Linked DNA regions of Homo sapiens. The protein of the gene in region 1 purifies or fractionates together with the protein of each later gene. This does not show direct contact. Each region holds a gene or a part of one and is shown on either strand. Other genes may lie near its edges.

Region 1 (3,500 bases):
TGCAGTGCTCTGGCCAGTGGGTGGTTGGGGCTCGGGTTGGCATGGTGTGCAGGGCTGCAGTGCTCTGGCCAGTGGGTGGTTGGGGCTCGGGTTGGCGTGGTGTGCAGGGCTGCAGTGCTCTGGCCAGTGGGTGGTTGGGGCTCGGGTTGGCGTGGTGTGCAGGGCTGCAGTGCTCTGGCCAGGGAGCAGGCCTGAGCGTGTCCCAGCCCCTCCCGTGGCTCCACGAGACCTTGCTTCCCCGCTTCCCCTGTGACAACCCTGGGCCACCAGCTCGGTGGTGGCCAGGGCCACTCACCACCCTCTTTCCTCCCCACAGTGGCATTTCTGTTAACATCCAGGACTTGGCCCCGTCCTGCGCCGGCTTTCTGTTTGGTGAGGACCTTGCCTTACCCCAGCTTTGCCCCTCCCTGGGCCTCCGGGTGGGTGAGCCATGGGGGATCCCGGAGGGCTTTTGCTGACCATCCATATTCTCTCTCGCTCTGGCCTCTTCACAGGTGTGGCCAACACAGCCGGGGCCTTGGCAGGTGAGGGGCGGGCCTCTGTGCCCAGGAGTTCCCCTGTCTGTGGGGTTTGAGGCCACCGAGGTGCTGCAGGGTGGGGTTGTGCCTCCCTTCAGAGGGGGTCCGGGTGTCAGAGGAGGGCACAGACCCCAGAGCAGGCCCAGGAGAGGAGGATGGGGCTGCCTTCCAGGTTCCACTGGACTTTGCTGACGGCAGGTGGCTCATGAGTCGCCATCTGCCCTGACTCACAGATATGTTCCCATCCTGGTAGCCCAGGGTCCCCGGGACACCTCCTGGCCCCGCTGAGTGCCATGGATGATGGGGGTCCTTCTTCAGCTCAGCCTCGCCTGGGCCGGCCTGTGGCTCCCATTTTCCTTTCAGCGGGACAAAGGGGACTTGTTACCAGGCCATTTTCTGGATGGCCTGTGAGATCTCTGCCCCTCCAAGACCCTCCAAGTCTGAGCCTGACCCACAGCTGGGACACTGAATTCAGCCCTGGGAACCATGGGGGCTCCTATCAGGCGCTAGACCCCCAGCCCTTCCCCTGGCACTACCTTGGGAACCAGGGTGGGGTGTGGGGCCTGGGCTGCCCGGGAGCACTCAGCCCGCCTGGCCCTCTCTTGGGCAGGTGTCGTGGGTGTGTGTCTAGGCGGCTACTTGATGGAGACCACGGGCTCCTGGACTTGCCTGTTCAACCTTGTGGCCATCATCAGCAACCTGGGGCTGTGCACCTTCCTGGTGTTTGGACAGGCTCAGAGGGTGGACCTGAGCTCTACCCATGAGGACCTCTAGCTCCCAACCCCACAGCCTCTCCAAGGACCCAGGCGCCAGCAGCCCCAGGACACAGGGGACTCAGTGTGTGGGACTTGGTCACTCCATGTCAGACACACGAGCAGAGAGGAACACAAACCACTGTGGAGCCTGAAGCTCCTTAAGAAGAGTCCACAACAGCTGGTGGGAGGGTGGGGTGGGCCTGGGTCCAGACCAGGCTCGCTGCTCTCTGGGCCTCAGTTTCCCCACCTGCCAGCGGGCTCGGCCCTGTCCTCCTCACAGGCTGGTGTGGCCGTCAGGGTGGGTGGGGTTATTGTTAGTAGGCGCAGCCTCATTCCCACCACGATCTGTTCCGCGTGGTTCCCGCCAAACCTCCCTCGGTCGCCGTGTTCTCCGCAAGCCTCCTGCAGCGCCCGCCTGCCAATGTGAGGCTGGCACCAGGCTGCAGCCTCCCCAATCCCAGCCCACTTTGCTGTGTCTCTGGCGGGCTGTCCTCCTTGGTGGGAGCTGTCCTGCACACTGTAGGATGCTTAAAGGTATCCCTGGCCTCCACCCACCCCTAGCCAGCAGCTCCCAGTCAGACAACAGCCAGAAATGTCTCCAGACTCTGCCCAGCCTCCCCAGGTAGCCACCCTCGAGACACGACCTCAGAGTCTCTGTGTCTCCTAGAAGCCTGACAGAGACCCCCAGGGCAGTGGGTGGGTGGCGGGCTAGAGACCCTTGCCTGTGTCCGGGACCCTGGCGCCGCTCTCCCCTCCTGTGGATCCCTCCGCACTAACAGTGTTCTCAGTGGGCAGACGCCTGGGCACCCCTTGGGCCCTGCCCAGCATGGCCATGGCGCAGGCTCTCGAACCCGCATGGCTTTCCCAGGCCTGGTGATTCTGCTCTCCAGGGACGGTTGGCACCTTCCTCGGGGGCGGGCCCCACGCACCCCAGAACACACAGACCCACCTTTCTGGCGTTCTTTCTACCTCCCTTTTCGTTGCCTGAGGAGCTGGTGGTTTCATGAGTTAATGATACATCTTGCAAGGTGTACACATAGAGAAAAAAACCTAAAAATGTGGAAAAGCACGCCAAAGCCTTATTTAAATAATAACTATTAAACTATTCAAAAAGAAGACTGTTATTTTATTTAACACCTTTGTTTTTTAAGAATGAACACGTGTTAAAGACTTTCTGTAACTAATTTCATGAGGAAACGAGTGACACGTTGGAATCAGGTCAAAGGAGAATCCCAGGAACGGACTCCTAGGCCGGGAGTGTTGAAATGAGCATGCCAGCAGAGCCAGGCTGGGTTTCGGGGTTCCTTTGCCGCCAGGGGTCCTGCGTGTCCACAGATGACAGCGATGTACCCTGCTATCAGCTGTCCACCCAGCTTTCCCAAGATGTGGGGCCCCCATGGAGTCAGACAGCCCAGCTGTGCTGTGGAAAGACAAAGTGGAGTTTTGCACTTGAGCACAAATGTTCCCCTACAATCTCTCCAGTTTCGGTCAGCCCAACCCTGTGGCACCATGGGTACAGCCTAGAGCATCACCCCCACAGAGGCTTCGGGACGGTCCTGCTGGACTGCTGGACGCTGCTGTGGGGTCTTGGGGCAGGAGGGGCTTCCAGAAGCCTGGCAGTTGCTGTCTGGAGGCCAGGAAGCCAAGCCCAGGAAGCCCACCTGCGGCTGAGTTCAGAGGTGGGGCCTGTGCGTTGTGAATGAATTGCTGTCTCTCTCCTCCTCATCTTGCACTAAATCTACATAACTTAAAATTTACCATTTTAGCCATTTTTAAGTGCACGGTTCTGTGGCATTAGGTACATTCGCATTGTGCAGCCACCGCCACCCTCCGCCTTCAGAACTTTCTCATCTTCCCAAACCGAAGCTCTGTGCTCATTAAAGGCTAGCTCCCCGTTGCTCTCCCCCAGCCCCGGCAACCCCATTCCACTTTGTGTCTCGACCGTAAGTGTGGCTGCTCTGGGACCAGTGCCAGTGGGCGCACGCTGGGTTTGCCTACGTCTGGCTTACTTCACTCAGCAGAGTGTCCTTCGGTTTTATCAGTTTTGTCACAAGTGTCAGCATTTTTCTCATTTTTAAGGCTGAATAAAATATTGTGTGGATAAGCCATGTTTTGTGTATCTGTTCACCCATTGATGGACCTGTGAACACGAGTGTGCAATTAGCACCTTTTATTTTTATTTTATTTATTTTTTGGAGACAGAGGCTCGCTGTCTCCCCCAGGCTGG
Region 2 (3,500 bases), on another chromosome or scaffold:
GAGGCCAAGGCGGGTGGATCACCAGGTGTCGGGAGTTTGGGACCAGCCTGACCAACATGGAGAAACCCCGTCTCTACTGAAAAAAAAAAAAAAAAATACAAAAATTAGCCCAGCATGGCAGCGCATGCCTGTAATCCCAGCTACTTGGGAGGGTGAGGCAGGAGAATCACTTAAACCCAAGAGGCGGAGGTTGCAGTGAGCCAAGATCGCGTCATTGCACTCCAGCCTGGGCAATAAGAGCGAAACTCTGTCTCAAAAAAAAAAAAGAAAGAAACTGGGATTTTTTTTTTTTTTTGAGATGGAGTCTCACTGTATCACCCAGGCTGGAGTGCAGTGGCATGATTTCAGCTCACAACAACCTCTGCCTCCGGGGAATTGTCTCAAGCAATTCTCCTGCCTCAGCCTCCGGAGTAGCTGGGATTACAAGCATGCGCCACCACACCCAGCTGATTTTTGTATTTTTAGTAGAGACAGGGTTTCACCATGTTGGCCAGGTTGGTCTCAAACTCCTAACCTCAAGTGATCCACCCACCTCAGCCTCCCAAAGTGCTGGGATTACAGGCATGAGCCACTGCGCCCAGCCTAGTTTGTAGTTTGTATTTTATTTTAATGTTAAATGAAGAAGCTGATATAAATAAGATCCTTTGCTTTTTTTTTTTTTCCTCACCAGTTCAGGGAGCTTTTGCCAGGGGCAGAGACCCCCAGAGGGCTGGGACCTTGGGGAACACCCCTTAGATGGGACAAAGCCTGGAGGAAGGGACTGAGATGTGATTGGGTGGGGAAACATAAGGCCAACAGAAGACCTGGAGTCAAAGTTGGACTTGAAAAAGTGGGTCTAGGGACAAGGGAAACCTGCTGGCCACCATCTTCCTGACAATCCCCTCTCCCCCAGCTGGCTGGCCCGCACAGACCCCAAGGATGTGGCACGAGTAGAGAGCAAGACGGTGATTGTAACTCCTTCTCAGCGGGACACGGTACCACTCCCGCCTGGTGGGGCCCGTGGGCAGCTGGGCAACTGGATGTCCCCAGCTGATTTCCAGCGAGCTGTGGATGAGAGGTTTCCAGGCTGCATGCAGGGTAACCAGGGCAGGGGCACAGTGGCAAGGGCACGGAAGATGTGAACAGGTTTGGAACCCTTCATCCAGGGGATGCCTTCCTCCACAGGCCGCACCATGTATGTGCTTCCATTCAGCATGGGTCCTGTGGGCTCCCCGCTGTCCCGCATCGGGGTGCAGCTCACTGACTCAGCCTATGTGGTGGCAAGCATGCGTATTATGACCCGACTGGGGACACCTGTGCTTCAGGCCCTGGGAGATGGTGACTTTGTCAAGTGTCTGCACTCCGTGGGCCAGCCCCTGACAGGACAAGGTAAGCACCTGCTCTGCCCCAAGGGGAACACAGAGGCCTTCTTGTACTCAGAGGAAATCCCAAATCCTACCTCTCCACAGACCCTAAGAACCTGTCCTCTCTGGCAACCTAATTCCCAAGATCCAGAGCAGCAGTCCCAGCAGAGGGATAAGGCTGTGTTTGCAGAGCACTTTGCACTAGGTTGAGAAAAATCCGTGTCCAAGAATAGGGGCATGGAAGCTGATGGTTATTATGAGGTGGGGGGCTTCAGCCACCTCTTGGTGCTGCTACTGCTCCCAAGTGTCTCTCCTGCCAATCCCTGATCCCTCTGGCCCCGACACCCCAGTTCCTGATGCTGCTGCCAGCAGCCCCATGACCCCATTGTCCCCAGGGGAGCCAGTGAGCCAGTGGCCGTGCAACCCAGAGAAAACCCTGATTGGCCACGTGCCCGACCAGCGGGAGATCATCTCCTTCGGCAGCGGCTATGGTGGCAACTCCCTGCTGGGCAAGAAGTGCTTTGCCCTACGCATCGCCTCTCGGCTGGCCCGGGATGAGGGCTGGCTGGCAGAGCACATGCTGGTGAGGGCCTGGTGAGAAGCAGGGCAGCTGCCGGGGACAGGGCAGGGGTGGGGCCTGGCCAGTCTGCCTCAGCCTCACCTCCCTCCTGCCAGGTGCCAGGCTGGTGGGCGGGGACTCTACTTGAAGGCCCAAAGCTTTGGCCTCAGGCTGCTGAATGTTGAGGTTTCCCCTGCCACTAACCCAGGCCTGATGGCAGGGCAATCACTTATATAGTTAATAAACATTGGTCCTCCCTATTAGACCCTAGCTGCCCTTCCCCATGCAGACCATGCCCTGACTTTTGGTGACCTCTTTCTTATTCCCTCTCTCCCCAATGCACAGATCCTGGGCATCACCAGCCCTGCAGGGAAGAAGCGCTATGTGGCAGCCGCCTTCCCTAGTGCCTGTGGCAAGACCAACCTGGCTATGATGCGGCCTGCACTGCCAGGCTGGAAAGTGGAGTGTGTGGGGGATGATATTGCTTGGATGAGGTTTGACAGTGAAGGTGAGGGACTCTCAGATCATACTCTTGGTTCTGGCTCTTGTCAGAGCCTCGGGGTCTCCTCTCTAGTGTTCACAATGACTTTGTCAGTGAGAAAGTTTCCTGAACACCCAACCCTGCTCCATTCCTCTGGCAGCCCAGCCACCCGAGAGACAGCCTTTCCTCATCAGATCTTGGGTCCATCTCAGGACAGGGGTGGGTGGAGCAGGACCTTCTTTGGTCTTACATCTCAAGTTTTCCTTGTTTGGTCCTTCCTTTCTTTCACTTCTCCTAACAGGTCGACTCCGGGCCATCAACCCTGAGAACGGCTTCTTTGGGGTTGCCCCTGGTACCTCTGCCACCACCAATCCCAACGCCATGGCTACAATCCAGAGTAACACTATTTTTACCAATGTGGCTGAGACCAGTGATGGTGGCGTGTACTGGGAGGGCATTGACCAGCCTCTTCCACCTGGTGTTACTGTGACCTCCTGGCTGGGCAAACCCTGGAAACCTGGTATGTGCGGTGGGGAAGGTGTGGCACAGCCTCCAGGCCTCAGCACCTTAATGGTGGAAAAGCTTTCTCCACAACCTCCAACCATCTTCTAGGACTGCCAGGAGGCACAGAAGTCATGAACGTTTGCAGTTTCCAGTCCCAGGCAAAATCTCAGTTCATGTCCCAACTCCACCAGTCACTGGTTTTGTGATCTGGCTAAGTTGCTCAACTTCCCTAAGCTTTAGTTTCCACATCAGTTGAATGAGGGTAGTTGTGATAGTACCTATCTCATGAGATTGTTGGAGGATTAAATAGTGCATAAAAAGGGTTTATCACACTGACAAATACACAGTAAATTCTCAATAATAAATACAGGCTGGATTTTTTTTTAATGAAAGGAAAAGGAAGGACTTTTGAACATTCTTACAGAAGGTATTGGGCTCCAAGCACTATCCATAAAGTTTGGCCCATTAGGAAAAGAGGAAAGCTGCCTCCTCTGCTCCAACTCTCCTCCTGCCACTTGGCTCCCACTGTCCCCTGTATAATAACCACTGTCTAAAGGTCAGTATTGTTACCGTCACCCTTCCCCTGTCCCTCCAAAGCATTCACCCCAATCCT
Region 3 (4,235 bases), on another chromosome or scaffold:
TAGCATGTGTGGGCTTGAATCCTGACTTTGCCAACGCGTCCCGGAGCCTAAGTTTCCCACCTGTGAAATGGGGGACAGTATTGGTCATAACGCACAGGGCTGTTTCCCAAGGTGCGGGCCTGGCGCGCGGGTGGGTTAGAAGCGGAATTCTCCTGCTGGATTCTGGCGCAAACTGCGGGCTGGAGGCCCTCGCCGCCGGGTCGCAGCGGCCTAGCATGGGAGGGGAGGGGAGGGGCGGGGCGGGGCGGGGGAGGGGCCGCACCGGGATCCAGATGTTCGGGGTCCGCCAGGCACAGCCGCGCCTGATTAAGCCACGTGGGGGCCGGCCGGGGGCCGCTGAGATGAAAGCGCGGCCGCAGGCCAGAGTAGGGGGTGCGCCGGGCCCCCACCCGGGACACCCTCTTCCCAGGCCGAAACCTGAGCCGCCCTCTAACCCGCAGACCCTGCGAGGCTGCCGCCCCGTCTGCGGGGGCGGAGCGTAGGTGGGGGACCTGCGGGCTGCTGCGCGGCGCTGCAGGCACCTGCGCCAGGCATGCCAGCGAAAGCGGGGGCATCTTTGCAGAGGATCCGGGTTTAGAGGGGCGTCCCCACTCCCTTATCTGGCGGAGAGGAAGCTGGGGGTACCCTCTAACCGAGATTCGGCTCCTGGGGCTACAGTCCATCGCCCTGGGGTGTGATGGTTATGGAAGTCAGAAGTGTCGCTATTTGCCCCGTTTTCCCATGAGAATTAGACATGTCAGCATCACCCCCTCCCCTTGCTCCTGAGCATACCTCTGTGTCCCCTCCCACTAAGCCCCAGCCCAGGGGTCTCCAGCCTTGGGGAGACAGGGCCAGATTCCCTAGGTCAGTGGATCAGGGCTGGGCCAGAGGGAGGCGAGGCTGAAGGAGCAAGGGAGGGGCTCAGAGGGCTTCCCGGAGGAGGCAAACTGCGCGCAAGTTGTCTCCTTTCTAACCTGGGTGTCAAAAGAGAAGATGCCAGGACTCAGCTGCCGGGTCCTGCGGCTCTCACCTTCCTCCCTCTCCGTTCCCTGGTTGGACTCCAGCCCCATCGCCCTCCCTCCTCCTGCAACAAGCTCTTTCTCTCAGGATCCTCGCTGATCCTTGTAGCCTGGACACCCCTTTCTCCTCTCTCCCGCGTGGTCGGCTCACACGTCGCCTCCTCCGCCAAGCTCTCCGCTCTCCTCGACACCCCTGGGGAATAGTCCCCTCCATCCCATCCCCCTATATATTTCCTTTTGGCCCCAAGCGCCAGCAGAGATCCCCCGCCCGTGGGCACCAGGGAGGTGTCCTGGGACCCCCGCGATGGGATAGACGGTGGGGGCCGCGATGCACCTGCCCCGCCCGACCCGCACGCCTCGGGTGCCGCAGCGCAGCTACCCCGCCCGCTCTCCGCATCTCCCACCCCCCGCTTCCCAGGCTGCCTCGCTCGGGTGACGTCAGCGCCCCGGTCCCCGCCGCAGCCGCTGCATCCTCCGTGCCCGGCCTGAGCTGGAGTCCCCCGCGCCCCCCGCGTTCCGCCCGGCCATGGCTGCGGTGGCGCTGATGCCACCGCCGCTGCTGCTGCTGCTGCTGTTGGCGTCGCCGCCCGCCGCCTCCGCGCCGTCCGCCCGCGATCCCTTCGCCCCCCAGCTCGGGGACACGCAGAACTGCCAGCTGCGGTGCCGCGACCGCGACCTCGGCCCGCAGCCCTCGCAGGTGAGGCGCGTGCGGTGCCAGGTGCCAGCGGGGGACGCGGGATCTCTCCGAAGGAGGAGGCGTTGGGATGGGCTTCTCTTGGATGACAGCAGGAGACTTTGGTGGGGGTGTCCGTGGGGAGGTGGGGGTCGGGAATGGGGAGATCTCTCCAGTAGTTGACGGGCTGGGGTTCCCTCTGATGGGGGAGTGCTTGGGGATGCAGGTCCTTGCGATAAGGGGCCGATACCACCTCCCGGGCTCCTTCCGCACTCTGCTGGGTAAGGACCCTCTAGCACCCAACCCCCAGCTCCCTCAGGCCTGATGGTCCCCCCACCTCATTCCTCCTCCTCCACATCGTGTTCCCTCCCCACTCAGAGCTACCAGCCCCTACTCATACCACCACTCCCCAGGATTCAAGCCTGATCTGCGTGTGACCAAAACCCCCTCCTCTGAGCCTCCCCCTCCTCCTCCAGGTCTGAGAATCCTTCTCCATGTCTCCCCTCCTCCCTGGAACCTAGTGGGGGGAAGGCTCATTTCTCTCCACCTTCACTGTCCATTTCTCTTCTCAAGCTCCCTCCCCATCTCCCTCCTCAGAGCTAAGAGCCCCCACTAATATTTGTAGCCTCTCCCAACTTCATCTCCATCTGGCTAGATGTCGTGGGGAGCGGGGAAGCCTTTCCCTGCCTCTGCTGAATGCTCCGGTCCCCCCACCCTCCTCCTGCCCCTCCCCATGGCCTGAGCCCCCTGTCCTCCCCTCCCCCAGGCGGGGCTGGAGGGCGCCTCCGAGTCTCCCTATGACAGAGCCGTTCTGATCAGCGCTTGCGAGCGTGGCTGCCGCCTCTTCTCCATCTGCCGATTTGTGGCCAGAAGCTCCAAGCCCAATGCCACCCAAACTGAGTGTGAAGCAGGTGAGGGCCCGCCGGCAGGGTGGGCCAGCGTGGGGAGAGGTGGCCTGGGAAGGGCCGTCCCCAGTCACCCGCTCCCACCTCCCACAGCCTGCGTGGAAGCCTATGTGAAGGAGGCAGAGCAGCAGGCCTGTAGCCACGGCTGCTGGAGCCAGCCCGCGGAGCCTGAGCCGGAGCAGAAGGTGGGCCTCCCACTGCGGCCTGGGGTCCCTTTTCCCAATACCCCCACCCTCTTCACCCCGTGGGAAATCTTCATTCACGTGCAGAGGCTCTGCCAGACTCTGCGTTCTATACCAGGCCTGCAGGGCAACCTCCATCCAGCCCCGTCATGTCTCCAGCCTTAGTTACATGCAACAACGCCCCCCATGCCCCACCACCTTTTCAGGAATAAGTGGCAGAAAACAGCCATCATTTATCAAACATCTGTCCTGGTTCGGGCCTGACTTCAACCTGTCCCAAATGTTTTTGTGTCACTTGGAGGCACAAAGGACAATGTCACCCCCATTTAGTGCCCAGGGGGCAACCTCCCAGGTCATACACAGGGCTGTGCAAGGGGCGAGATTTGAAGCCACCAGAGCTGTGGCCACTCCTCACCTCACTCCTCTTAGGCGCCCCCAGAGCTGCCAGGTGCTGGTCTAAGCCCTTCCCCTGTGATGAGCTGGTGGTCACTGTCACCTGGAGGGGCTCAGAACTGCGGCTCAGGGTAGAGCAGGCTTGCCTCGCAAGCACGCACACACTGCCTTATGGGAGAAATAATAACGGTTCATCTATTGTAGTCCAAGCAATGCTGCATCATGGGGAAACTGAGGCACAGAAAATCATGTAGCATAGCCAGAGACCTAGGGGCTGGGACTCCCCAGAAAGCCCTTTCCCCACTTCCCCCATTTTCCTCCACCCCTTCCCAGCTTTCACTGCTGTTCAGAAAAGCTCACTGCACTGTCAGCCCTTCCAATTCAGAGCTCCCTCTTATTTATTTATTTATTTTTTGAGATGAAGTCTTGCTCTGTTGCCTAGCCTGGAGTGCAGTGGTACAATCTTGGCTCACTGCAGCCTCCGCCTCCCGGGTTCAAGTGGTTCTCCTGCCTCAGCCTCCTTTGTAGGTGAGATTACAGGCACCCCCCACTACAATCGGCTAATTTTTGTATTTTTAGGAGAGACAGGGTTTCATCATGTTGGCCAGGCTGATCTTGAACTCCTGACCTCAAGTGATCTTCCCACGTCGGCCTCCCAAAGTGCTGGGATTACAGGCATGAGCCACCATGGCCGGCCATCAGACCTCCGTCTTGACGCTGTCAAAATAAGAATAATGAGGATGATGATATTTTTAGTAATAGGGACTACTACGCATTAAGTGCCTGTGCCGTGCCAGGCACCTGGCAGGCATCCTCTAGTTGAAATTTCATGGCTACTCCATGAAGGAAGAGAACGATACCCATTTTAGGGCTCAGAGAGCACAATCCACTTCCCTAAGGGTACACAGGAAGCCAACTGCCACGCTGAGATCTGTGTTCACTATAAGAAGTCCTATTGGCCCAAATCACTTAGCCACATCCAATCCAAGTGAATTCTCCTAGCTCCTCTCCTGTTAGTTTATTTATTCATTTATTTATTTGAGATGGAGTCTCACTCTTTCACCCAGGCTAGAGTTCAGTGGTG
Region 4 (3,938 bases), on another chromosome or scaffold:
CTGAAGTGCGGTAGTGTGATCTTGGCTCACTGCAGCCTCAACCTCCTGGGCTCAAGCAATCCTCCACCACAGCCTCCCGAGTAGCTGGGACTACAGGCGAGTGCCACCATGCTTGGCTAATTTTTGTATTTTTTGTAGAGACTGGGTTTCTCTATTTTAAAAAATAATTTGTTATTATTATTTTAAATCTTCATTTTAACAAATAATCTGGGATGTGCAGATAGACTATAAAGGTTTAAAGTTTTTTTTTTTTAATTTCATAAATTGTATACCATGTCAATTTTCATTTGATGTCAATTTTACGTGGATACTAAAAGGTCTAAAACTTAACAATCTTTAACACCAAACTGAAATCTCATTTGAACACCCTGAAAATTCAGAGGCTAAAAATTTCCCAAAACTGAAAGACAGTGAAGAGACCTATTAACCCAGAGTGTAGTGAGTCCAAGTAGCTCCAAGAAAGGCCCTGGAAAGATGTGCTGAGTTGACAATACAGGAAAAGCACCACTAGGAAAGAAACAGGAGCACTACCTTTCTATCACATTGTTAGGTAAATATTCACTTAGAGCAACTTCAGGCAGCAACGAGGGCAAATTAAGGAAAGCTGCGGTGGCATCCAGTTGTTTCAAGATTAAGGTAATTTAGCAGCCCTGTCTACTTGCCTTGAAAAAATACACAAACATTCCCAACAAAGCTAGGAGCAGTAGGAGAGCTATGATCTGTCGAGCGAAAACCTCCTGCCAAGTACTGGGATGGGTGCTAATAAAAACCTAGGAGCCGGTTCTTCTTGTTGACTGAAATCTGACAAATTAATGTTAATCCTTAACAAAATTTAACTCAAATGTGTCCTTTTCCCTATAATCAGTCACATGCTCTTCTTTCTTCCCACCCATCCTGCAAACACTTGGTATGCTGCTTGAGAGAAGTTTATCTTTAATGATTCTAGCTGGCCTGTAACATCACTATTTCAAGCTCAAAGCTTGGGTTCTAGTCACAGCCACTAACTACCTGTGTTATTATACACAACCACTTTACCTCTCTCGACATGAGTGTCCTCCTAATTGCTACAATAAGGAAATGGAAAAAAATACGATCACTAGCTCTAACACTACAGTAAATTGTACCAGAAATTTATAAACTTTATACTTCCTTAATACAGGTGTCAATGTGCATTTTTTTCCTTTTTGGGTTTATAGTATTTGTGAAATTTTCAAACAGGTCTGTATTATAAGAAAGGGTAAGAACCACTGATAAAATATTAAAATGATATCAGTAAAAATATTATTTCCTTTTTTAGAAGATAGCTCATGACAATGCACCTTTTAAATGAAGTGTAAATGCCTCGTCTAAAAAAAATTCACCACGCTGCTTTATGAAGTAAATGTAGTAAATTCAGTCAGGAAGGGCACTGGCAAATGAAATCCACGTTGCAGGAAACTGTAAACACTGCATTTGGTCCCAGAATACGGATTTTTCCCTTGATTTGTTCCCATGCCACTTTGGTTCTTCTCACTTTCAGATCCCCCTAACCAATGCTTAGCTGGCATCTCCACTTGGCTGCTTCACAGGCACCAAAAAGTTTTCTGCCTAAAACTGAATTCTCAATCCTTCTTTCCACATCTATTCCTTTCCCAATTTTCCTCACTCTGTAAAGTGGCATCATCATGAACACGGTTCATCAAACCAGACACTTTTCATCATTCTCGACATTTCCTTCTTATATTTACTCCACCACATCCAATCCACTTTCTATCAAATCCACCTCCAAATCTATCTCAACTCATCCCTCCCCTTTTCTCCCCAATTACACTGCCCCACACGAGTCAAAGCCATCATTTGCTGCTCCCTGGACCTCTACAATAGATCCTTAAATGGTCTCTTCGCCATTACACAGACCGCCCCAAATTCGGACAGAGTGGAAATCAGATCCTGTCATTACCCCGCTTTAAATCCCTGTATTGCCTTCCACTGAATTTGGAACAAAACCCCACCTTCTTACAGAGCCCACAGGGCCCTGGAGCACCAAAATGCTTGGTTCTTAGATCCTGCCAAGCTTTTTCCTGTCTCAGGGCCTCGATATGTATTCCACCTCAATGTTCTTCGACTCGTACATCCTTAAAGTAAGATTCCATTGACTGTGCCCACTTGTTTTGAAAAGGGAGTTTATTACACAGTTGTTTTAAACAAGTTCATAACCCTAGAACTTAGGTATAGAGTGACCGCTCTAATCTAAAGCAACAGAAGGGAAATGGGAGCAGGGCAGGTCTTCCAGCAGAACACCAGCTACCATTTCTGCAGGCCTCTCCATCGATTCACCCGGGGAGCCCTGACCACCGAGGCCGAGCGGCGGGCTCCTGTGCGCAGCTGCCCCGCAGCAGGCGCCCGCGGCCTATGGCGCCGCCCCATTTTTTCTAATACTTGGACTCGAACTAGTGGGGTCACTGTTAGGCGAAGAAAGGAATGACCTCCAAGGTCACATGCAAGCAAACTTTGGTCTCAACTAAACAGGAAATTGCACCGAAATCGCTGTCGCTAGCGCCTTACAAGTAAGGGTTTTCTCCTTAACCCAAACAAGCCTTTCGGGCTGGGTTTTTATCACGTCCGCTCCAAAACCGAGGAGGTTGAGTGAACTTCACCCCACGACCCCGACTCTCCGCGGCGGCCGGAAGCGGAGGCCTGGCCTGGGGAGGGCAGGACCCCGAGGGGCGAGGAGAGGAGGAGGGGGCTGCGCTCACCTCGGAGCAGAGCCATGGCGGCTGCTGGGTCGTCGGCGGCGCGGGTCTGTGGTGTGGGGGACGCTGAGCGGCCGCTCGCAATCACCCAGATTTCAAGAGCGTGGGTGGCGCCCCGAGAGCCACGCCCCTGCCCTTTCACCTACTTCCTGGGGCTCCTTGGCGGGGTCCCAGCGTAAGATGGTCCTACCCCACGCGTAGCGCTGCCCGCCTCACCCCAGCCCGAGGGAGCCCAGGGGACGGGGCTCGGATAGACCACAACGCGCCTTGAGAGCGGACTCTTTCCTCACATCCTCATTTTTAGATTTTCTCCGTTTCCAAACCGAGAGAATTTGGTTTGACACCTCTCACCCATCATATCCTAGCCCCGACAGGCGATGACTCTTCCCCTTTGTCTCCGCCAACACCCTAAACACTGGGCAGGAGCCAAGGGCTGAGGAACTTGGCGCGCGGGCGGCCGCGGCCGCCAGCTGGGGGCGGGACCGAACGTCCTGTGGGCGGGGCGCGGCGGCGGCGGCGGGATTGGCTGGGGCGGGCGGGTGCGCAGTCCGCTGGGCAGAGGCTTGGGCCGCCGAGCTGGACCCGGACCGGTTTTGGGTACTGTACTGGGGGCAGGGCAGAGAGGTGGGCGGCAGTTGGGGTGCGGTGATTGTAGTAGGCTAGGGCGCTTTCGGGTCCCCATTGCAGCCCCCGGATGAGCCCGCAGTATTTTCCTTATATGATCAGGTCCCATTGCGGGCGGCGCCGCTTGCCCGGAGCCTGAGAGGATTATGAAAACGTGGCGAGCGAAATGGGGCCAGGGGACCTGGAGCAGGGGCGTGAGGAGAGTAGGCAGCGGGTGAGGCTGGACGGGAGGGAGGTCTAGGGAGGCCTCTGCCGCGGGCACTGTGAGTCCTGGCCGATGATGACGAGACCACTGCGCAATCTGAGTTCTGGGAACCAGGTGATGGAGTATGTTCTGAGAACAGACTGAGGCCGGGCAAGCAGGAGGCGGCCGCGGCAGGGGAGAGGCGGAGAGCCCCTCGATACCAGGGCTCGGAGGGCCGGGCTGCCTAGCGAGGGCTTCTTTTGAGTGCGTAGGGGTGGTGGGTGGCATGGACGGTTTCTCTGAGTCGTCAGCGAATGCCCCCCCTAGAATCCTGCTTTTCAAACACTTTGGTGACACTCTTGCAATGTTGGGGTGTTTTTAAATCCAAATTTGTATTA
Region 5 (3,500 bases), on another chromosome or scaffold:
CCACCATTTTCCAGCTTTACTACCTTATGCAAATTACTAAACCTGTCTATACCAGTTTCCTCATCTGTAAAATGAAATATTTAATATGGCATGTTGCATTAGAGTCTAAGGATGCAAAGTTCCAAGCCTAGTGGGAAGGCAACATTTTATTCAACCTTGAGTTAACTTCATGAGACTAAAGGCAATTTCTCAATTATTTCTGTGTTCCTGCTGTGCTTTTTTAGGAGACTCATAAATTTCTGTTAAATTATAACAGTAACAGCAAAACCTTCTACTTCATACATGGTTGAAAATGTTCAGCTATGCTTACATAAAGGAAAAAAGAAAAATAAATCAAATTTTGAAATATGTCTTCCTTTTTGGCTTATAAGTTAGAGAATATGTCTTTTATTTTTTCTGTCACCAAAGCACAGGTAATCATTTATTTCAGTTTATAGCTTTCAATATATAAAGCATGAATATATTATATTACGCTTATGGGAGAAAGAACACAATGTCAAGAGGAAGAAACCACATTATAAAATACTAAACCAAAACAGATCCCAAGTAAGCTCGTAAAGATTATCCAGCCCTCATCTTCAATGTCATAAGGTCGTGCAAATGAGGTGTTAACCCAACCAGGAGAGCCAATGACATTAGTCACAGTCCCTAAATATCTGATTAAATGGCAAATCCTGTCACAGTAAGTAGAAGGCATCTCTTTCACTAGGGGTCTCCCTAAGCCAGTTAACAAAGCAAAACACCTGGATACTGAGGAACTCTATCACAAGAAACCTTTGCTTTTCTCTGCCAGCCAATTTCTATTAGGCCTGAATGGGTAACAGGAAACTTAAACTACATAGCCTAGGAAGACTACTTGCACTTTTAAATTATTTATACCCTTACTGATTCTGCATCATTTAAAAAGAGAGAAAAGGAATCTATCCAATTCCCTAATTCTGACCACCTAAACTCAAATGAACTTCTTTCCCTTTACTCTTCTACCACCCATTCCCTGGACTTCATCATCCTCTAGTGCTGGGCAATCTGAAATGCAATATTCCCACCATTGTCCCAACTCCTATCCTTCTAGCTCTCTCACTCCCCAACCCCACTGCTCTTTGATGAAATAGGTGCTGCTAGCCTTTAACCTTCCCATCATCATCCAGTCAATCCAAACTATTGGCTTTCCTTCTTTGGGAATCCAACCTAGCTCTCACAATCCACCATTATTTCAACCACTCTTCCTGCTAAGACTCTTAAGTGTTCCAAGACAATTTCTCCTCCACTTCTCCAAAGTGATCCACTGCTCTCCTCAAACTTGCCACCCCCTACTTCTTTTATCACTTAATTATTCCTACTAACAAGCTTGTTTCTTATCTTCGCAAGAAAGCAGAGGCCACAGACCAAACTGCCCACAACTTGTCGCTCCCTTCTGTCAAATTTGTCACATTCAAACCCGGTTTTTCCTTTGTCCTTCCTCTGTCAGAAGGTAATGTGTCCTTTCTCAGATTGAAATCCTGTTCATATACTTATGCCACTGAAACTTCAGTTTTCTCAAGGACCTTCCTCTAACGAGTTTTACCTTTCTCTCCTGTATCTTTAACCTCAGTCTGCCCAGCAGCCTTTTTCTTTAATGTTGTTTCCCACAGTTCCTTTTCCAGTCCTGATATTCTCACTCTATACACACACTCTTCCTGGCCCATTTCATCCAATTCTATGGTTTCAAATATTATTTATAAACTGATACTCCTAAATTTGAAATTCCAGACTTCCCTCTTAAGTGCCAAACCATCATTTTCAAACACCTACTGGTCAGTTCCACTTGGATGTCACACATAAATCTTAATATAATGACTACTCTGCTGGGTGTGGTGGCTCACGCCTGCTATCTCAGTACTTTGGGAGGCCGAGGCGGGCAGATCACCTTAGGTCAGGAGTTCGAGACTAGGCTGGCCAACATGGTGAAACCCCGTCTCTATTAAAAATACAAAAAATTAGCCAGGTGTGGTGGCACGCGCCTGTGATCCCAGGTACTCAGGAGGCTGAGGCGGGAAAATCACTTGAACCTGGGAGGCGGAGGTTGCAGTGAGCCGAGATTGTGCCACTGTACTCCAGCCTGGCAACAGAGACTCCGTCTCAAACAATATACACACATGACTACTCATTTTCCCCCAAAACATTTCCTCCTCTTTTATTTCTTCTCTTAGTGATCCACCTAGTTTCCCAAGCCAGAAACCTGGGAGGCATCACACATTTCTCTCTCTCCATTATATAAAAGATTACCATGCCTTGGTAATTTTTACCTTTTCAATCTATACGCTCTTTCACTACTGTCTAACTCAATGCAAGCAACCTTCTGTCTATGTCCACTACTGCTTCAAAACAGAGAATCATCATTTTTTAAACTTTGCTCTCTTTGCTTCAGTCTCAATACCCTCTAATTCTTCCTACCAACTGTCAAGGCAATGTTACTAAATATCAATTTGATCATATTACTCTCTTTCAAAAAGCTCTAATGGCTCCAATCATCTTCAGTATAAAATTTATTTTACATGGAATACTAACAACGTGTGCTATTTCCTCTGCTAGGAATGACTCCCCTCCTCCAACTTCCAGGCTCAGTTAGATACCCCTCATCTGTACCTGCAAATAGGAAATAATAAGAAAGTTTTTATTCATGAAATACATAAACATAAAGCTTCAGAGTTGTCTTCCTCTAAAGGCCACTGAATATTAATCACATAGAAGTGATCATGGAAGGCTTCAAAGTAATTTTTAAAACAAAGGAAAAAATTTCATACAATATTCCCAAATTAGCTAGTACAGTTGTACTAAAAAAAGTTATACTGCTAAAACATGAAGATTTATGTATAACAACTAAGAAAAATAGAAAAAAAGAGAAAGAGGTTATTATAAAATGACAGAATAAAGCCATAGCCACTACAACAACAATTTAATATACAAAGGATAGAGTTATAAATGAAAACAGTAAGGTAGGAAAAACCATGTAGAAGTCCAAAGACAGTAAGTAAATATCAGTAAATAAAGCACTATTCTTTATCAATACTCTTTTATTGGTTTTTCTAACAGATTTGAAATCTTTAAATCCAGCTTATTATTAATTTTAAAAAAGAATTACATGGGCAGCCTGGGATACGCCTATAATCCTAGCACTTTGGGAGTAGGAGGTGGACAGATTGCCTAATCGCAGGAGTTGGAGACAAGCCTCGGCAACATGGTGAGACCCTGTCTCTACAAAAAAAATACAAAAATCAGCTGCGTGTGGTGGCATGCACCTGTAGTCCCAGCTACTCAGGGGGTTGAGGTGGGAGAATCACTTGAACCCAGGATGTCAACGCTGCAGTGAGCCAAGATCCTGCCACTGCACTTCCAGCCTAGGTGAAAGAGATCCTGTCTCAAATAAATAAATAAATAAATAAATAAATAAATAAATAAATAAAATAATAGTCAAGCACTATGGCCATAAAAGACAGAAATGACTAAAAATTTGAAATAAA
Region 6 (3,500 bases), on another chromosome or scaffold:
CTGGTAAGGGCTCAATAAATGTTAAGCACTTTTATAATAATGTTTTGTGACCTCGCTGACTTCATATGTAAAACAGAGGCTGTAATACCTGCATTGAACTGATAGGATGAGAATTAGAGATGATGCATGCATGTCAAGTGCTTAGTACTGTACTTAAGAGGTCGAGTCCCAAATAAATGGCAGTTATTTTTATCATGCTATTTTTGTTTTAAAGTTCTGACATTTTAGCAGGTCAGAAGAGAAAGCTTAAGCTAATCTTCAGCTTGTCATGAAGCAGTCCCATGAACTCAGTTTTCAGTGGTTTGGCTGAGAATTAGAGGCATTTTCTAATTCAACACTCACTTATCAGTTACTCATAGTAAGCTTTCTTGTGATTCTTTCATACACATTTTTAGTGCCCTGAGAATCTGGGTTTGCATTCTTTGGAGAAGGGTGGTGCTGCTAGAGATGAAGTACAATCATTGAGTAAAGGACTGGTTAGATGTGTCTTTGGCTGTGAAAATCTCACGGAAGTATTGCAAACAGCCTGGTCTGTTGTACTTAGAAATATAGGTTTGGTGTGATTTTTTTTTTTCCAGTATCATTCTTTATGAGTTGCTATGGTAACAGTGTACCCATCTGAAATGCAGGTGAAAATATGAATCCTAGATTTATGTAGGCAATATACGTGCTGTTGCTTTAGCATGTTTATCATTTTGAAGCAGATGGCAGTTATACAAGAGAAGTTTAGAAATAAAATTACCTTATACCAAAACACCTAAGTGCTATTTTTCACCGAGGTAGCTGTAGGGTTGTAGAAAGAGCCAGGTGTGGGTACTGGTCTAATCTATCTTATGTGTTTTTGCCCTTCTCAGCCTAATCTTCTATTTATAAAATGGGAACTATGATTCCTTTATGGCTTTTTCACAGATAGTTAAATAGTGTAAAGTTGCTTGGAAACGCTTGAATGCTCTGCAGATCTAAGAAGGCAGTACAACTTCATGGTATATGCTTTGGAGTTGAAGACACTAAGTTTAAAGCCCTGCTTCCACCAGCCCATTGTTGTGTGTCTGTAGTCCCAGCTACTTGAGACTGGGGCAGGAGGATCACTTGAGCCCCCAGGAGCTTGAATCTAGCCTGGGCAACATAGCAAGACCCCATCTCTTACAAAAATGATAAATACATTTCTGCTTCTACTAGTTATTCACTATGTGACCTTGGCCAAATAACTAATTTCCCCAAGCTTTAGTTTTCTGGAAATTATAATGCCTTTTAAGATTGCTATGAGAAATAATTAAGGTTTTTGTGATTAAAGAAATTAGGCAGGTGGGTGATGCTAAATAATAGGCTCTTAGAAAGTCCTATGTTGGGTAAACTGCAAATTCTCAGCCACAAGAGTATGGGGAGTTCGTTGGTCAAGTAGCACATGCCCTCCCAGTTACCCATGAGCATAGATTAAAAACAGCCAAGGTTCCAAGTGAGAAGTCCACACTTCTGACACACCTAGCAATTTCTTGAAGTGCGTTTTCTCTGAAAGAGTAATAAGTTTATTGTCAACTCATGCCTGAGGGCTCAACTTCACTGTTTAGTTTTCTTTAGCTTAGCTTCTATTTTTTTAGGTGTTCACTGTAAATACACCATCTCATTTAATCCCAATAACAGCCTTATAAAGTAGGTACTATTATTGAATCCATTTTCAGGTGAGAAAACTGAAACTTAGAAAGGTGAAACAGCATTCCATAAGCCACATATATAGAAAGCAACAGGGCCAAGATTTGACTTCAGATCTGCTGATTCCAGAGCCAAACAAGTTAGCACCGTGTTTTACTGCCCAATTTTCTCTTCCTTGGCTGTTGAGAGTAGCAGGGTGGAATGGAGAAAGCACTGGCCTATGGACCAGGAGAGTCTTGTTCTAGAATATGAGCTGTGCTCTGAGTAGAGTCAACCTTAATGTTGTGGGAAAAAAACTGGACTAGACATTGTTCCTCCTAAGTTTTGTATGACCTTAGCCACTCAGTTAACCTTTGTGAGATCTCAGTTTTCTTATCTAAAAAATGAAGTAAATAATAAGGGTGTTGCTAAGGGGGATTTTTTTTTTATCTAGAGGTTTGTTGGAAGTAACTGTAGTAGTCATGCATCCAACCTCCCACCTGATGCCTCTGTGCCCATATTTTTGTCAGTCGAGCCACTCTCTGAACGTCATATTTCACAGCTGCTCAGGTTTTGGGCCACTCTTATTTATACAGTCCTACATTAAGTCTTAAATTTTTTTCTCTCATAAAATTTCCATGTTGTGTTAAATCAGTCACTTAGTTGATCATTTTTGTAGGTGGGAAAAGTAGGGAGGAACAGTGGGAAGGTATTTCTAATACCAAACAATGTCCCTGTGACTGAACATAGCTTTTATCCTTAAATAAGCCATGCCTATTGTTCTCATTGATCTTTTTCACTTAAAGTACACAGCTGTCTTCTGGGCACACTGTGGCTGTGATGGGCATTGACTTCACACTCAGATACTTCTACAAAGTTCTGATGGACCTATTACCTGTCTGTAACCAAGATGGTGGCAACAAAATAAGGTAAGTGCTTTGGGGATGCTATTTCCTTTCTAGCTGCAGTTTAAAAATAGATGTCAGGTATCTCTAGTTGAATGGGAACCGCATAGTTATGGTCAGGAATAGAAATCTAATTTATGGCCTGGGTGTCCTATTAAGAAGGTTTTTGTTCTTTTTCTCTTCTTTCGTTTTTCTGAGATGCATACTGTTTATGATTTAGACAGACTCAGCACACAACAAGAAAAATAACTGTAGCATGGAATGCACCAAAAGCTCTTGTTTCCCTGGAAGTCAGTAATTAGAGGCTTCCCATATCTTTGGTACTAGAAAGACCAGAGAGGACTCTTGGGTAGGACTTTTGATGTTAACTTTGTCATTAAACCAAAGTCTTTGTGACATTTTCAGCTGCTTAGACTGTTCCTTTTACATTTCCCCAGAAAGAGACCATGGAACCAAAAGTCTCTGCCTCCTGAATTTCAAAAGAACTTGTCTGATCAAAGCAAGGGCATACCCTTGATTTAATGCAGGCTGCTTTTAAAAATAGCTTTCTTAGTTCCACCTCATGGTTCATGCTTCGTGTCATTGGCCCTTATGGGGAAATGCAGAATTCCTGGCAAACTGATATCACTAATGTAAAGTAAAATAAAGCAAAATATAGTCTTGATTAAAGCAGTTCTAGCTTCATTTATTGTTTCTATCAAATATAGATCAAATATAGTAGTCCCCCTCTTATCTTTGGTCTCGCTTTGTGAGGGTTCAGTTACCCATAGCATAATACAATAAGATATTTTTATAGAGACAGAAAGACCACATTCACATAACTTTTATTACTGTTATAATTGTTCTATTTTATTATTAGTTAATGTTGTTAATCTCTTACTGGGCCTAATTTATAAATTAAACTATCACAGGTAGATATATATAGGGAAAAACCTGTATATGTAAGGTTCAGTACTATCATCACTT
Region 7 (3,500 bases), on another chromosome or scaffold:
CTTGCTGTTAAAATGAAAAGTATATTAAAAATTTTAAAAACCAAAAGAAAATAAAAATTTAAAAAATTCAACTTCTAAATTATTCTGTTTAATCCTATAATTGTATTAGCCATTCTTAGCAGCTGCTACTGTTAGATCGAAGGTTTTCCCTGTCATTTCAGGCTTAGGGTAAAAAAAAAAATTAAGTGCTAGTCGATCTGAATATTTTGGTGTTGGGATTGGGCCATAATCCCAAGTGTTAAAATCCTGAAATCCTAAAAACCACAATTCTAAAAGATCAAAATCTTAAAAATATAATCCTGGAAAAAGTAATTTTAAAAAATTATTTGAAAGATATTACTTTACATTTTTAAAAGGGAATGTATTTGAGAAACATGTAAAAACATGACAGCACTTCATAGGCCACTTTACACAATAAAATAGGCAATAATAACATGCTTTTGCAAGCATAAACAGTTATAAAAATGACAGTTACATGTGTAAAACAGGAGCAGACAAACTGTATTCATAAATCAGAAAGCAAAATGTGTAAGTGCATGTCACTATGGTTAGTAGTTGTGTGCCACTCTGCTTTATAACTGCGCTCATCTGAAATAACCATGACAGACAACCTAAGTCTTGAGGAAATTGATAAAAAACGGCAATGGGTCACTACAACATATGCAGTCACCCAAAGAACTGAGATCACAAGAAATTTTATGTTTCACAGATGCAGATGTACAGAAAGGACCTTTCTTGTGTACATGCAGTGTTTACACACACAGTTAATGCTGTGTGTAATGTACTTTTGCAGAGTCAAATTTCTGATGTTCAAGGCCGCAGAAGAAAAGTCTGTCCACCTTTCAGAGAGAGACCAATTTGCCTTATGTATTTGTTCTCTCAGAGCCCCTGGTCAATTGGATGGTGCCCGCCAACACTGAGGGCAGGTCTTCCCCACATAGTCTACTTGGACTGACTAATCTTTCCTGGAAACACCCTTACAGACACATGCAAAATAATGCTTTACTGTGTGTTGTTACTTAATTATTTAAAAGAAGTATAGCACTCTAGTACTTTTTTTTTTTTTTTTGAGACAGAGTCTTGGCTCTGTCACCCAGGCTGGAGTGCAGTGGCATGGTCTTGACTCACTACAACTCTACCTCTCAGGTTCAAGCAGTTCTCCTGCCTCAGCCTCCCGCGTAGCTGGGACTACAGGTGCGCCACCACACCCAGCTAATTTTTGTATTTTTAGTAGAGACAGGGTTTCACCACGTTGACCAGGCTGGTCACGAACTCCTGACCTCAAGTGATCTGCCGGCCTCGGCCTCCCAAAGTGCTAGGATTACAGGCATGAACCACCACATGCAGCCTAGCCTCATAACAATCTTATATAAATAAGATCTTTACAAAAGAAAACAAGTTAGAAAGCTAACTTTAATAATTATCTTACATGATCATTTATAGAGTCTTGTCAGGGCTGGAATTAGAACCGTGATCTGTTGACCTCTAATTTAGTTTTCTTTTCATTCTATGGTCCTGGGAGAAAATTTGTCTTTATAAGTATTTGACATATGAGTTGGTGTGATAGATTACATTTCCTGTTCCTAATGCACTTTTTCTCATTAAATGAAGGGAACTCAAAAAATAAAAGCTTTAATAAGACTGAATTTCATTCTAGGAGAATGGCCACCAGTCCTTACTGAGCAGCGATGATCAACTTTTTATTTATGAGACAGCTGGAGTGCTGATTGTTAATAGTGAATATCCGGCAGAAAGGAAACAAGCCTTAATGAGGAATCTGTTGACTCCACTAATGGAGAAGTTTAAAATTCTGTTAGAAAAGTTGATGCTGGCACAAGATGAAGAAAGGCAAGCCTCTCTAGCAGACTGTCTTAACCATGCTGTTGGATTTGCAAGGTAAGTGTGATCACAGTTAAAATTATAAAGTGCATGTATCTACACAGACAGAACCACTTGTTTGGTGGGCACACACATTTGTGTTTCCACAGTTGGATAATCCAGAGAATTGTCTAAATCTTTGTCCTCCAAATCCAGTCAGTTAGATTTGGTTGAAGAAGGGGATAGGTTACATACCATTTACATTTTTGCCTTGACAACTGTAAATCTTTAACTCCTCTGACTTCTCTGATATAAATGGGTTGTGTGTTTAAGAGGATCAGCTGAAGTGTTAATATACCAAATATATATTGGGACGGGACATCTTTGGTTAGTCTTGGTTACCTTAAAGAGAAGAGCGTGAGGTTTCTCTTCAGTTGTATTGTGTCCTGAAGATCACCCAAGCAGCTGTTTTTTCCGCCTCTAGCCATACTTTTTGTTGACAAACAACAGCATGAAAGTTGTAAAGATTGCTAATTTAGAAGTTAAATTGTTCTATAATATATTTAAGAACAAGAGCTAGATATTAGAGAGGTTGTATAAAGAATTCTGAAGATGGTTTTCTAAATTTAAATGGGTGGTTTGCAGGTTACCTAGTACAGGCCTAGTCATAATAAGTGGATTTATTTTCTCTTTTCTGTCCACTTTGTCAGTAGGATTTTTCTCTTTTTTTTCTTTTTTCTTTTTTTTGTGGGGGAGACACAGTCTTGCTTTGTCACTCAGGCTGGAGTGCAGTGTTGTGATCTCAGCTCAGTGCAACCTCCGCCTCCCAGGCTCAAGCAATTCTTGTGCCTCAGCCTCCAAGTAGCTGGGATTGCAGGCATGTGCTACCACACCCAGCTAATTTTTCTATTTTTAGTAAAGACCGGTTTTGACCATGTTGTCCAGACTGGTCTTGAACTCCTGGCCTCAAGTGATTTGCCTGCCTTAGCCTCCCAAAGTGCTGGAATTAGAAGCATGAGCCACAATACCCAGCCCAGTCAATAGGATTTTAATAAAACATTTAGGTAGACTCACATTAGAAGGATTATATTAACTACATGTCATTCATTTAAGTTAATTTGAGCTCTTTTGTTCTGGAAAGATCATTGGAAGCAGTAGTTTACAAATAGCCATATTAGCTAAAGATGGAAGTAATTGTGATGTGGAAAATAAAGGTCTGGTTATTTAGTTTTGTTAATTTTGTAATTTGTTGTGCATTGCTTTTGAATACTCCATAACACTTTTAAAGAATAAAGTTGCATCTGATTGCCTGATTTTTGCTTATATAGTCGAACCAGTAAAGCTTTCAGCAACAAACAGACTGTGAAACAATGTGGCTGTTCCGAAGTTTATCTGGACTGTTTACAGACATTCTTGCCAGCCCTCAGTTGTCCCTTACAAAAGGATATTCTCAGAAGTGGAGTCCGTACTTTCCTTCATCGAATGATTATTTGCCTGGAGGAAGAAGTTCTTCCGTTCATTCCATCTGCTTCAGAACATATGCTCAAAGATTGTGAAGCAAAAGATCTCCAGGAGTTCATTCCTCTTATCAACCAGATTACGGCCAAATTCAAGGTACCGCAAACTTTCAGAGCTCTGAAAATCTCTTGAAGATCAGATGTATTTATCTTCAGACATGTTTC

What was found.
Region 2: the proteins of SLC17A9 (region 1) and PCK2 purify together in Homo sapiens (affinity purification with mass spectrometry; one large-scale study listed by BioGRID and IntAct). This does not show direct contact.
Region 3: the proteins of SLC17A9 (region 1) and TMEM59L purify together in Homo sapiens (affinity purification with mass spectrometry; one large-scale study listed by BioGRID and IntAct). This does not show direct contact.
Region 4: the proteins of SLC17A9 (region 1) and ACAA2 purify together in Homo sapiens (affinity purification with mass spectrometry; one large-scale study listed by BioGRID and IntAct). This does not show direct contact.
Region 5: the proteins of SLC17A9 (region 1) and MON2 purify together in Homo sapiens (affinity purification with mass spectrometry; one large-scale study listed by BioGRID and IntAct). This does not show direct contact.
Region 6: the proteins of SLC17A9 (region 1) and CACHD1 purify together in Homo sapiens (affinity purification with mass spectrometry; one large-scale study listed by BioGRID and IntAct). This does not show direct contact.
Region 7: the proteins of SLC17A9 (region 1) and XPOT purify together in Homo sapiens (affinity purification with mass spectrometry; one large-scale study listed by BioGRID and IntAct). This does not show direct contact.

What each region holds. Positions count from the first base shown.
Region 1 is NC_000020.11:62,966,209-62,969,708, forward strand, and holds the end of SLC17A9 (voltage-gated purine nucleotide uniporter SLC17A9), read left to right. Parts: intron 1-316; coding exon 317-372; intron 373-494; coding exon 495-524; intron 525-1,128; coding exon 1,129-1,292; 3' UTR 1,293-3,377; downstream 3,378-3,500. UniProt on the Homo sapiens protein: Voltage-gated ATP nucleotide uniporter that can also transport the purine nucleotides ADP and GTP. Uses the membrane potential as the driving force to control ATP accumulation in lysosomes and secretory vesicles.
Region 2 is NC_000014.9:24,097,311-24,100,810, forward strand, and holds part of PCK2 (phosphoenolpyruvate carboxykinase [GTP], mitochondrial isoform 1 precursor), read left to right. Parts: intron 1-892; coding exon 893-1,077; intron 1,078-1,164; coding exon 1,165-1,368; intron 1,369-1,738; coding exon 1,739-1,926; intron 1,927-2,247; coding exon 2,248-2,410; intron 2,411-2,684; coding exon 2,685-2,903; coding exon of another isoform or gene 2,904-2,995; exon of another isoform or gene 2,996-3,443; intron 3,444-3,500. UniProt on the Homo sapiens protein: Mitochondrial phosphoenolpyruvate carboxykinase that catalyzes the conversion of oxaloacetate (OAA) to phosphoenolpyruvate (PEP), the rate-limiting step in the metabolic pathway that produces glucose from lactate and other precursors derived from the citric acid cycle.
Region 3 is NC_000019.10:18,611,435-18,615,669, forward strand, and holds the start of TMEM59L (transmembrane protein 59-like precursor), read left to right. Parts: upstream 1-1,435; 5' UTR 1,436-1,524; coding exon 1,525-1,695; intron 1,696-2,437; coding exon 2,438-2,582; intron 2,583-2,669; coding exon 2,670-2,761; intron 2,762-4,235. UniProt on the Homo sapiens protein: Modulates the O-glycosylation and complex N-glycosylation steps occurring during the Golgi maturation of APP. Inhibits APP transport to the cell surface and further shedding.
Region 4 is NC_000018.10:49,810,734-49,814,671, forward strand, and holds the start of ACAA2 (3-ketoacyl-CoA thiolase, mitochondrial), read right to left. Parts: upstream 2,801-3,938; 5' UTR 2,752-2,800; coding exon 2,736-2,751; intron 1-2,735. UniProt on the Homo sapiens protein: In the production of energy from fats, this is one of the enzymes that catalyzes the last step of the mitochondrial beta-oxidation pathway, an aerobic process breaking down fatty acids into acetyl-CoA.
Region 5 is NC_000012.12:62,469,826-62,473,325, reverse strand, and holds part of MON2 (protein MON2 homolog), read right to left. Parts: intron 2,626-3,500; exon of another isoform or gene 2,548-2,625; intron 1-2,547. UniProt on the Homo sapiens protein: Plays a role in regulating membrane trafficking of cargo proteins. Together with ATP9A and DOP1B, regulates SNX3 retromer-mediated endosomal sorting of WLS away from lysosomal degradation.
Region 6 is NC_000001.11:64,669,129-64,672,628, forward strand, and holds part of CACHD1 (VWFA and cache domain-containing protein 1 isoform 1 precursor), read left to right. Parts: intron 1-2,435; coding exon 2,436-2,558; intron 2,559-3,500. UniProt on the Homo sapiens protein: May regulate voltage-dependent calcium channels.
Region 7 is NC_000012.12:64,428,392-64,431,891, forward strand, and holds part of XPOT (exportin-T), read left to right. Parts: intron 1-1,657; coding exon 1,658-1,896; intron 1,897-3,146; coding exon 3,147-3,432; intron 3,433-3,500. UniProt on the Homo sapiens protein: Mediates the nuclear export of aminoacylated tRNAs. In the nucleus binds to tRNA and to the GTPase Ran in its active GTP-bound form. Docking of this trimeric complex to the nuclear pore complex (NPC) is mediated through binding to nucleoporins.